Regions from separate parts of the Homo sapiens genome. Here all the other regions are linked to region 3. Evidence: fine-mapped expression QTL. A gene starts in region 3. Each other region holds a variant in brackets. All regions are shown on one strand. Distances are between the middles of the regions. Region 1 overlaps NIN (ninein). Region 2 overlaps ABHD12B (abhydrolase domain containing 12B). Region 3 holds the start of NIN (ninein).

The links. PIP is the estimated chance that this variant, and not a neighbour inherited with it, causes the effect.
Region 1: its variant is fine-mapped to the expression of NIN in fibroblasts (GTEx, PIP above 0.99).
Region 2: its variant is fine-mapped to the expression of NIN in T cells (TOPMed, PIP above 0.99).

What each region holds. Positions count from the first base shown.
Region 1 is chr14:50,761,949-50,764,711 of GRCh38, reverse strand. NIN (ninein) reads left to right here. Exons shown (of 31, transcript NM_020921.4): 15 at 748-886. Among named protein-coding and RNA genes, the nearest start is that of NIN, 68 kb to the left of the region's middle. The variant C/G (reference allele first, on the strand shown) is at 1,179.
Region 2 is chr14:50,874,330-50,877,092 of GRCh38, reverse strand. All of the region lies in intron 1 of ABHD12B (abhydrolase domain containing 12B), which reads right to left. Among named protein-coding and RNA genes, the nearest start is that of ABHD12B, 3.7 kb to the right of the region's middle. RefSeq lists a silencer at 1,508-1,557. The variant G/A (reference allele first, on the strand shown) is at 1,580.
Region 3 is chr14:50,829,864-50,832,626 of GRCh38, reverse strand. It overlaps NIN (ninein), which reads left to right and starts at 1,465. Exons shown (of 31, transcript NM_020921.4): 1 at 1,465-1,621; 2 at 2,110-2,163. RefSeq lists silencers at 1,124-1,573, 1,624-1,903, 1,974-2,023, 2,044-2,163 and an enhancer at 2,734-2,763.

The DNA.
Region 1 (2,763 bases), 68 kb after region 3:
GACCGGCTTCCTTCATTTAACATAATGTTTTTAAAGTTCATCCATGTTGTAGCGTGTATCAGTTCTTCATTTCTTGAATAATATTCCATTGCGTAGATATACCACATTTTGTTTATTAATTCACCGGTTAAGGGACATTTGGGGGATTTTGGCTATTATGAGTAACGCAGCTATGAAAATTTGTGCGCACGTTTTTGTATGGGCATATATCTAGGAGTAGAATTGCTAGGTTGTATGGTAACCCTATGTTTAACCGTTTTAGGAACTGCTAAACTTCTTGCAAAGTGGTTGCACTGTTTTATATTCCCACTAGTATGATAGTTCCAATTGCTCCACTTCTTCACCAACAGTCGTTATTGTATGTCTTTTTGATTCTAGCCACCCTAGTAAGTGTGAAATGGTATCTTATTGTGGCTTTGATTTGTATTTCCCTGATAGGTAATGATATTGAATATCTTTTACATGTATGTATTAGTCATCTGTATATCATCATTAGAGAAATATCAATTCAGATCATTTGCCCATTTTTAAAATTGTCTTATTATTGAGCTATAATAGTCTTTATATATTCTAGTTACAAGTCCCTTATCAGATACTTAATTTGCAAAACATTTCTACTTTCTTGATAGTGTCCTTTGAAGCACAAAAGATTTTGTTTTGATGATATCCAATTTATCTTTTTTGTTGTTGTTGTTGCTTATGCTTTTGGTGTCACATCTAAGACCAGTGTTGGTTTTTAAATCCCAGGTACTACAAGACCAAGTAGATGAACTCCAGTCTGAGCTGGAAGAATATCGTGCACAAGGCAGAGTGCTCAGGCTTCCGTTGAAGAACTCACCGTCAGAAGAAGTTGAGGCTAACAGCGGTGGCATTGAGCCCGAACACGGTAAACACATTCGGACAGGCTGTAGATAAAGCCTTTACTCTTGTTTTTAGAAACGTGGTTCAATATAAAATTGCAAAGCTTTGGCAACTTGAAAAAAGAAAAAAAAAAAAAAGAATTTGGCCATACTCTTTTCTTGAGCTGTTTCACTTGTGGTCTCGTTTTTCATTTGTCCTTGAAGTTTTTATGAGAACATTTCCATCTGATTTTGATATGCGTCAACAAAGGAATGGAAGAATCAAACCACAAGGGTATTTGCTTTGTTAACAAAACAAACAAAAAACTGGCTGCAAAT[C/G]TGGGAATCCAGGCCTTGGGAGTGTTAGAATTCAGACACTGAGCTATTGCTGTCCTCTTCGAAGAGAGTGTGTAACTCATATGAAGATGGTTTTGGAGAGCAGGCCAGCCAGATACTACAGAATCCATAGCTGGTTTTCTTATACGGGCTGTGCTGAATGTCTGTATTGCCTCAGCAGAACAAAGAAGATAAATAAGGGCTGGCCTCCTGGCCTTTGAGGAAGATTTTGAGTGGCAAGTTTGGAAGGCAGAGTTTGGGAGCCTCCTGCATTAACTATGAGCTCCTTTCCTCTCTCCTGATAGCCTACCTCTTTTCTCGGGGGTGTTGAGTTTAAATTTCAGAGACAGCTCATAATCAGTTATTCTGTTATAAATAACTTTCCCCAGTGCTATTGGGGATAGGAGTGTCGTTCTTACACAGGTTGTTTATTCCTCCTCTTACTGCAGAATAATTAACAGATTGGGGAAGGAGGAGACAAAGAGGCCTTAAGACCTCCCCTCTGATTCTTAGCTCATTCCAGTCTGAGGATCTCATAATATGATATATCTCGGCAGCTGTTATGGACTTTTCCATAGATGGCCAAGTGTTGGGGTTGTTCCTCATGAGGACAAGAAGCTGTACCATCGTGGTGTGGCTCACACCCTGGGTGTTACTTCTCATTTGGGAATATGCCATCAAATATGAAGAGAAGACCCAAAGCAAGACTGCCAGTTGCAGCTGCTAGACATATACCCAAGAAAAGTTCCTTTCTTCCATCTGCCTGTGTATCCCCACATGCAAAGCTATTTTGGGTCCCACTGCCTTAAGAGATTAGTCATAATCTTTTCTTCTGTGTACAAGCTCAGCCCCCAACTTATGCTTCACATTTTCAGTGTCATTCTCAGTCATCGTCGTGGGCAGTTGCAGAGATGAGCTCATGCATGAGTTAAGAATTTCTACCCACAACTGCCTGTATCCTGGTTCCTAACCTATGCCCTGTTTTTTAAAATTTTAGCTGATAATATGCTAAAATTATGCTGATAATAGCTAAAATATGATAATTTTAGCCAATAATAGCTGATAAGATAAAATGGGGATCTACCCACACTCTAGGAAATTCATAGGAAATAGGCAGTCTTCTGTAATGCTGAGTGATGGGTTGTTGATAGTGTGACCCATGAAGCTAACTCCTCAGGGCATCGCAGCAAGTATGCTGGCCGTTCATTTTCCTGCCACATCGTCATTCAGTATTTGTTGGATGGGTAGGAGTCTGGTTGGTTTGACCAAACTACCTCATGCTATTACCTCAATTTGCAGCATTTGCATTAGGAGGTAGCTACCTATAAGCAACAATTTCCACCCCCGCCGCCCCACCACCTACTATTCTAAGAGATGGATTCTATTAAGGTTTTTTCCACTGCCTGTACATGAAAGAATCTGTTCACCTTCATTTCTTCTTGTTTGCCCTAACGCTTGAAAAGAGAAAAGACTTCTCTTGGCCTCTGTTATTTCCTATTAGTTCACATCTCTGGTAATTCAGGCTGAAAATCATTCCTTAGTTAAACTGGATGTCCCTCCTCAGATGCCACACTGTGTTATTGAAAGA
Region 2 (2,763 bases), 44 kb before region 3:
TATTGTTCCCTGTGACACAAACCACCCAATCAGGAGCTGTCAGCACACAAGTGACGATTTGTCCATGAGGGGTCACTAAGGACACCTCTGTCTCAAGCCACCTCTCTTGTGAGGGTCTTAGAGAGGTGAGGGATACAGGAGGTCAATGTCATCACCTCCTGCTTCCAGTTTTTGCCCACATTATCCATTAAGTAAGTCCCTTTCCATGTTGTAAGAGATCATTGTTAAAACTGTTTAATATAATCAAATGGTAAGGTTGAGGGGCTGGAAAGCATTTTTGATAAATTGTCTCCCCTGCCCTGATTTCTATGCTAGACCAGAGGCATTTTTGGAAGATAATTATTACCTTTGCTTTGCAAATGAGACTGGAAAGTTAAGTAATCTTTCCAAGGTCACAAGTCAATGAATGGCAGAGCCACACATACCCAGGTCTGTCTGATCCCATAGTCTTATAATGATCTCCAGGATGTCACAGTCTTGGTGACATCCATGTAAGCAGAAATGAACCCCAGGAACAAAGCTGGCCTCTGGCAAAATTCTGCTCATAGACAATCTTGTTTTAAGATCTCCTTCTGCACCTTAGCCCTCTCAGCAGGGTCCCGTCCTTTCTTCTTTCCTCCTTCCTGCTCCTGTATTCTCAGGAGCCCTCTGATAACAAAGTCATCAAAGAAAGACCTCTAAAAAAATTAATTCCCCCTGAAGTGTTAATGACTTAAAAATCAGAGCACTTATATGTGTTTGGAAGAGGCACGAAGAGAGAAGATAATGAATCTCTGATGAATTTCCAGCAGTTCTGCAAGAAGTGGAAAAGATATGTGGGCTAAGGGTAATGGATAGATTTTTGAATACATCATACGCTGGCAATTGCCTACTCATAAAATCAGCAAGAAAGAAATGAAAATGATTGTTTCATAATACTTTAAAATAGCACCCCACCACCCCTGCCATGAAGGCGGCAGGAAGGAGAGGACATTGTTGTTCTGATTTTAGAGATAAGAAATCAAAACCCAGAGAAGCCACTTTGAGCCACAGATCAAGCCCAAATGGACAGAACTGAACCCAAGGCTGAACTGTGCCTCCTTCCAGCTGCTGGCTCCTGCTGGCTTCCTTCTAAGCTCCCCTCACTCACCTCCACCCTGCCTGTTAGTCTCCAGCTAAGCTGTCTTTTGAAGGTAGGCAGGGTAGTCTCCCGCTAAGCTATGTTTTGAAGGTCTGCTTGGGAAGCAGAGGCAGTAGAGGGAAATGTGTGTCTGTTTTTTAAGGAATAATTCATACACAGTCCTTCTCTCAAATAGCTCGAGGCACTTTTCTGAGATGCACTGCGGGAAGAGAACAGAGTGACCAGATCCTCAGAGCATCAATAATGCAAAGCAGCTTCTTTTAACTAAGGGGTTGTCAATTTGACTTCCCCTAGATCAGTAAGGGATCAAAAGTCACCAGTGGCTAATAGACCTTATTTGAGCAGAGGATGCAGTTTCAGCCCAATCCCCGCTAACGGCCAGCCACATCAAACGGCCACCTTGGTGCTTTGGTGTTCTTTCACTTGCCCTTTGATCAGCTGCAGCTGTAACCACACAGC[G/A]TCCCACAGGGGACTCAGAACCTAACTGGATGATTCTTACTGGTGAAAGCTGGTGGAGTCTGAGCTGCTACAGGGTGAATCACTCATGCTCAGAGGTTTCTGCAAACCAACTTTGGGAAGCCCAAATCTAACTACATTTACTATTTCAAATATTAAGACAGGTACCTTCAACCTGTGTGCCAATTCACTCAGTCGACATGTGTTTGTCACCAAGCACCGGGAGACATCCTCCCAACCAAATCCCCTCTTCCTTCACACCCATGGAAGTATCTCTTTTTTGTCAAAGTCTCCTGGAGAGATCATTCCATGGTGACCTCTCCTCTCTTGTCTTTCCTCCCACAAATAATAACGGGGCCTCAGCTGGCCTTGAATTGTTCTGTGATGGCTTTCCCATTATTAGCCCTGTCTTCTCCACTCTATCAGGCCACAGACAACAAGAACAACATGGCATAGAATGCTTCCTTTACATTTCCCTCTGTCTAGCCCAGGGCTGAGCTCAGTAAATATTGACGCATAGGTTGAAAATAGAAAGAGAGTGCATTTATTTTGTAAGGGAGAAGGAAGCAACATTTATTGGTAGCTTCAGAGGAAAGAGGAAGGACTTCATTTTCTTTTTTTTACTTACAATTGCAAATGAATCAATGTGTGCTCCACAGAGCAAGGATTTTGTCTGTTTTATTTACTGCTGTGTGACCAAGACTAGAATACTATCCAATAGATAATAAAGAACCAACGCTGTGGAAAGAATGAACACATTTATCAGCCTACTCCTGCACATTTTCTGAGCACTATCTAGGATTGTAATGACTTGGGGTGGAATGGGGGAAATGAGGAGGAAAATAAACCTTTGGTTTCCCCCAACTTCCTTCTGGAGCACATTTTCCATTTTTCTTTTTTTATTATTATTTTTTTTTGAGACGGAGTCTCGCTCTGTCACCCAGGCTGGAGTGCAGTGGTGCGATCTCGGCTCACTCCAACCTCCGCCTCCCAGGTTCAAGCAATTCTCCTGCCTCAGCCTCCGGAGTAGCTGGGACTACGGGCATGTGCCACCACGCCTGGCTAATTTTTTGTATTTTTAGTAGAGACAGGGTTTCACTGTGTTAGCCAGGATGGTCTCCATCTCCTGACCTCATGATCTGCCCGCCTTGGCTTCCCAAAGTGCTGGGATTACAGATGTGAGCCAC
Region 3 (2,763 bases):
ATGAGTGTGTGTTTGTGTGTGTATGTGTACTTATTCAAGACTGTTTAAAAAGGAGAGAGGAGCATAAATCTCTCTTATTCTGCAGGCACGCTTATATACCGTGTTGAAAGAAGAGAGCCTGGGCTTTTGAATAAGACTGAGATGTTTAAAATTTTTAAAAAAATTTTTTGAGGTAACTGTAAATTCGCTTGAAGTTGTAAGGAATAATAGAGAGATTCCCTATAGACGCTTCACTTAATTTTTCTCAATGGTAACATTTTGCATAACTGTAGAACAATATTACAATCAGTAAATGGACATTAGTGTAGTCCAAATGTCTTATTCAAATTTCATGAGTTTCACGTGCTCTCATTTGTGAGTGTATATTCAGTTCTATGCAATTTTGCCACATATGTGATCTGCTTTTGAATCTCAGTTCTGTGGAGTTCCTGCTGTGTGATCCTGAGGAAGCTCTTTGACTTCTGGGAGATCCATTTTCCTCATCTGCAAAATAATGTCTGCCTCCTAAGAGTGATGTGAGAATTAGATAAGATAATTTCTGTCGAGTTTCTAGCGCACTGGATTCTCAAGGAATGCTGGTTTCCTCTTGTCTGTTGCTTGCTTTCTCGGTAGAAAAGGAATCACCAGTTTCCTGCTAAAATAACCAGACTTGTGGGTTGTAATCCATCAGGCGGATCCTTCAAGGGCAACACATTTAACCCTGCAGCTCAAAAAGAACCATGGCCTGGACTTGGGATCCTATTTGACTGCAATGAGATCAGAAGTGTAGGGATGGGGGAGTGAGAACGCAGACTCTGGGGTAGTAGGTAGGAGGCGATTAATATCGAGCAACTGTTGGGCTGGGAACCACCAACTCCAAGGAGTTTTCGTCCTGTGTGGCTTGCGACCGAGGGTTAGCTTCACCCGGAGAAGGCTGCACAGGGGCGGGAGCCTGTGAGGACGTGGTGGGCAGGTGCGGAAGCCAGTGTAGACCCGGCAGGAGGGTCGCGCTCGCTCTACAGGGTTCCGAGTCACTTCTACAGCCCTTCTGCCTCCTGAACACCCTTTCCAATGTTGATGGCCAATCGACACCCGAGGGCTGGGAAATCACCCCCTTAAAGTCCCGCTTGCTGAAGGCGGGGGCCCTTCCTCTGCGCGAAGACGCTGCGGCCCGAGTGTCCGCGGTGCGGGTGAGTGTAGGCGTGTTGGGAAAGAAAGGGAGGCGGACAGGCAAGGGGCGAGGGTGGCAGCGCCAGCCCCAGCTCGGTGGCGACCTCGGGGCGCCAGCCTCCTACACCCGCACCCGGAGCCCCGGCGTTTCTAACTTCAGATCTCGGAGGCGGGCGCTCGGAGCGGGAGGGCGCGTCTGCGAGGGCTCAGGCGGCGCCGCCCGCTCCTCCCTCCGCTGCCTGAGCCGCGCGGGCCGCAGAGGAGGAGCCGCGCCGGGGCCGGCGTCGCCCTGACTCCTCCTCCCCGCGCGGGCCCGGCCCTTCCTCCCCGGCGTCCAGAGCTCCGGGTGGCCGCGGCCGAGCCGGGAGCCGAGCGCGCTGGGCGCGGCCGTCCCGCTGCCGCCGCCAAGCCCGGAGTGCGCCAGCGGCCATGGTTCCCGCGGCGGCGCCGGGCGCCTGAGCCCCGGGACGCAGTAAGTGGCGCAACCCCGGGGACCCGGACCCACGGCCTGGGGGTGCACGGAGGCCTCGCGCTGCCCCCGCGCCGTCGGCGAGGCCCTGAGAGCCCGGAGCGAACTGGGCACCGGATCACTCGGGGGCTTCCCATTTGGGGTCCGGGGCCAGCGGGGCGCAATCCCTGCGGGCCGGGAGGAAGCAGCGGCCGGGCGGGAGGACGAGGCGGGGACGGGGCTGCTTCGGAGGCGGGAGGAGGGGCCGGTCCCGGAGGCGCGGGCTGCGCGGGCGGGGGCGGGCCGGCGGGGGCGGGGAGGATGCGCGCTGCAGCCCGCGGCCCCCGAGAGCCGCGCTTTTGTAAGAGCTGGCCCCTTACATATGGAAATGACGCTCACGCGGGTCCCCATTCGCGTCCTTTTGAAGGACGCCCGCCCGGAACCGCTGCGCCGGCTGCGAAGTATTGTCCCGTTTCTCCAGCCCTAACAAAGCGTCCTCCTTCGCTTTGCAGAGCGCTGGAGGCGGGCTGCCGGCTGTGCGGGCGCTCCGGAGAGACCGACAGAAGGTAGGCGAGGGCGGCGGGGCCGGGGGAGCGCGCTGCCTGCCCACACAATGGGCTGTCTGAGGTTTCTGGTAGTGGCGATGGGCAGGCGAGTTGAGGACGCATCGCAGGTGGCCAGGGACTTGGGAGGCGCGCTTGTCCTGCGGCCGCACCTCCGCTTCCCCGCGCGGCAGCACCGCTGGGTTTGGGCACTTCCAGTACCCCCGACGCCCCGGCCGCCTGCCCGGAGCTGAAAGCCGCTTCTGTGCTTTGACCGAGAGCAGGCTTGAGTCCCCGAGGGAGCAGAAGGGGTGGTGGTTCCGTTGGCATGTGCCGCCCGTACAGCCTTGTGATTGAGACGCTGCAGAGGAAACTGCATGGGGAAATCCGAGGTGTTAGCCTGGGCTGTCTGAGTAGCGGAGAGCTGCTTGGAGCCCGGAAAGTGGAGATTTTTGGAGGTGTGCGGGGTCGATGCGCGTAAACAGTTTCCCAGTATAATGCCCAGGAGAAGGGGAAAGAACAAAATGACATTTGGTTATTGCCTAAAAGGTGTGGCATGGAGGTATGGAGTGTCGGGGAAGGAAGCTTCCAGCGGCTAGGCTTCTGTAGCTACCGAAGCGGCCC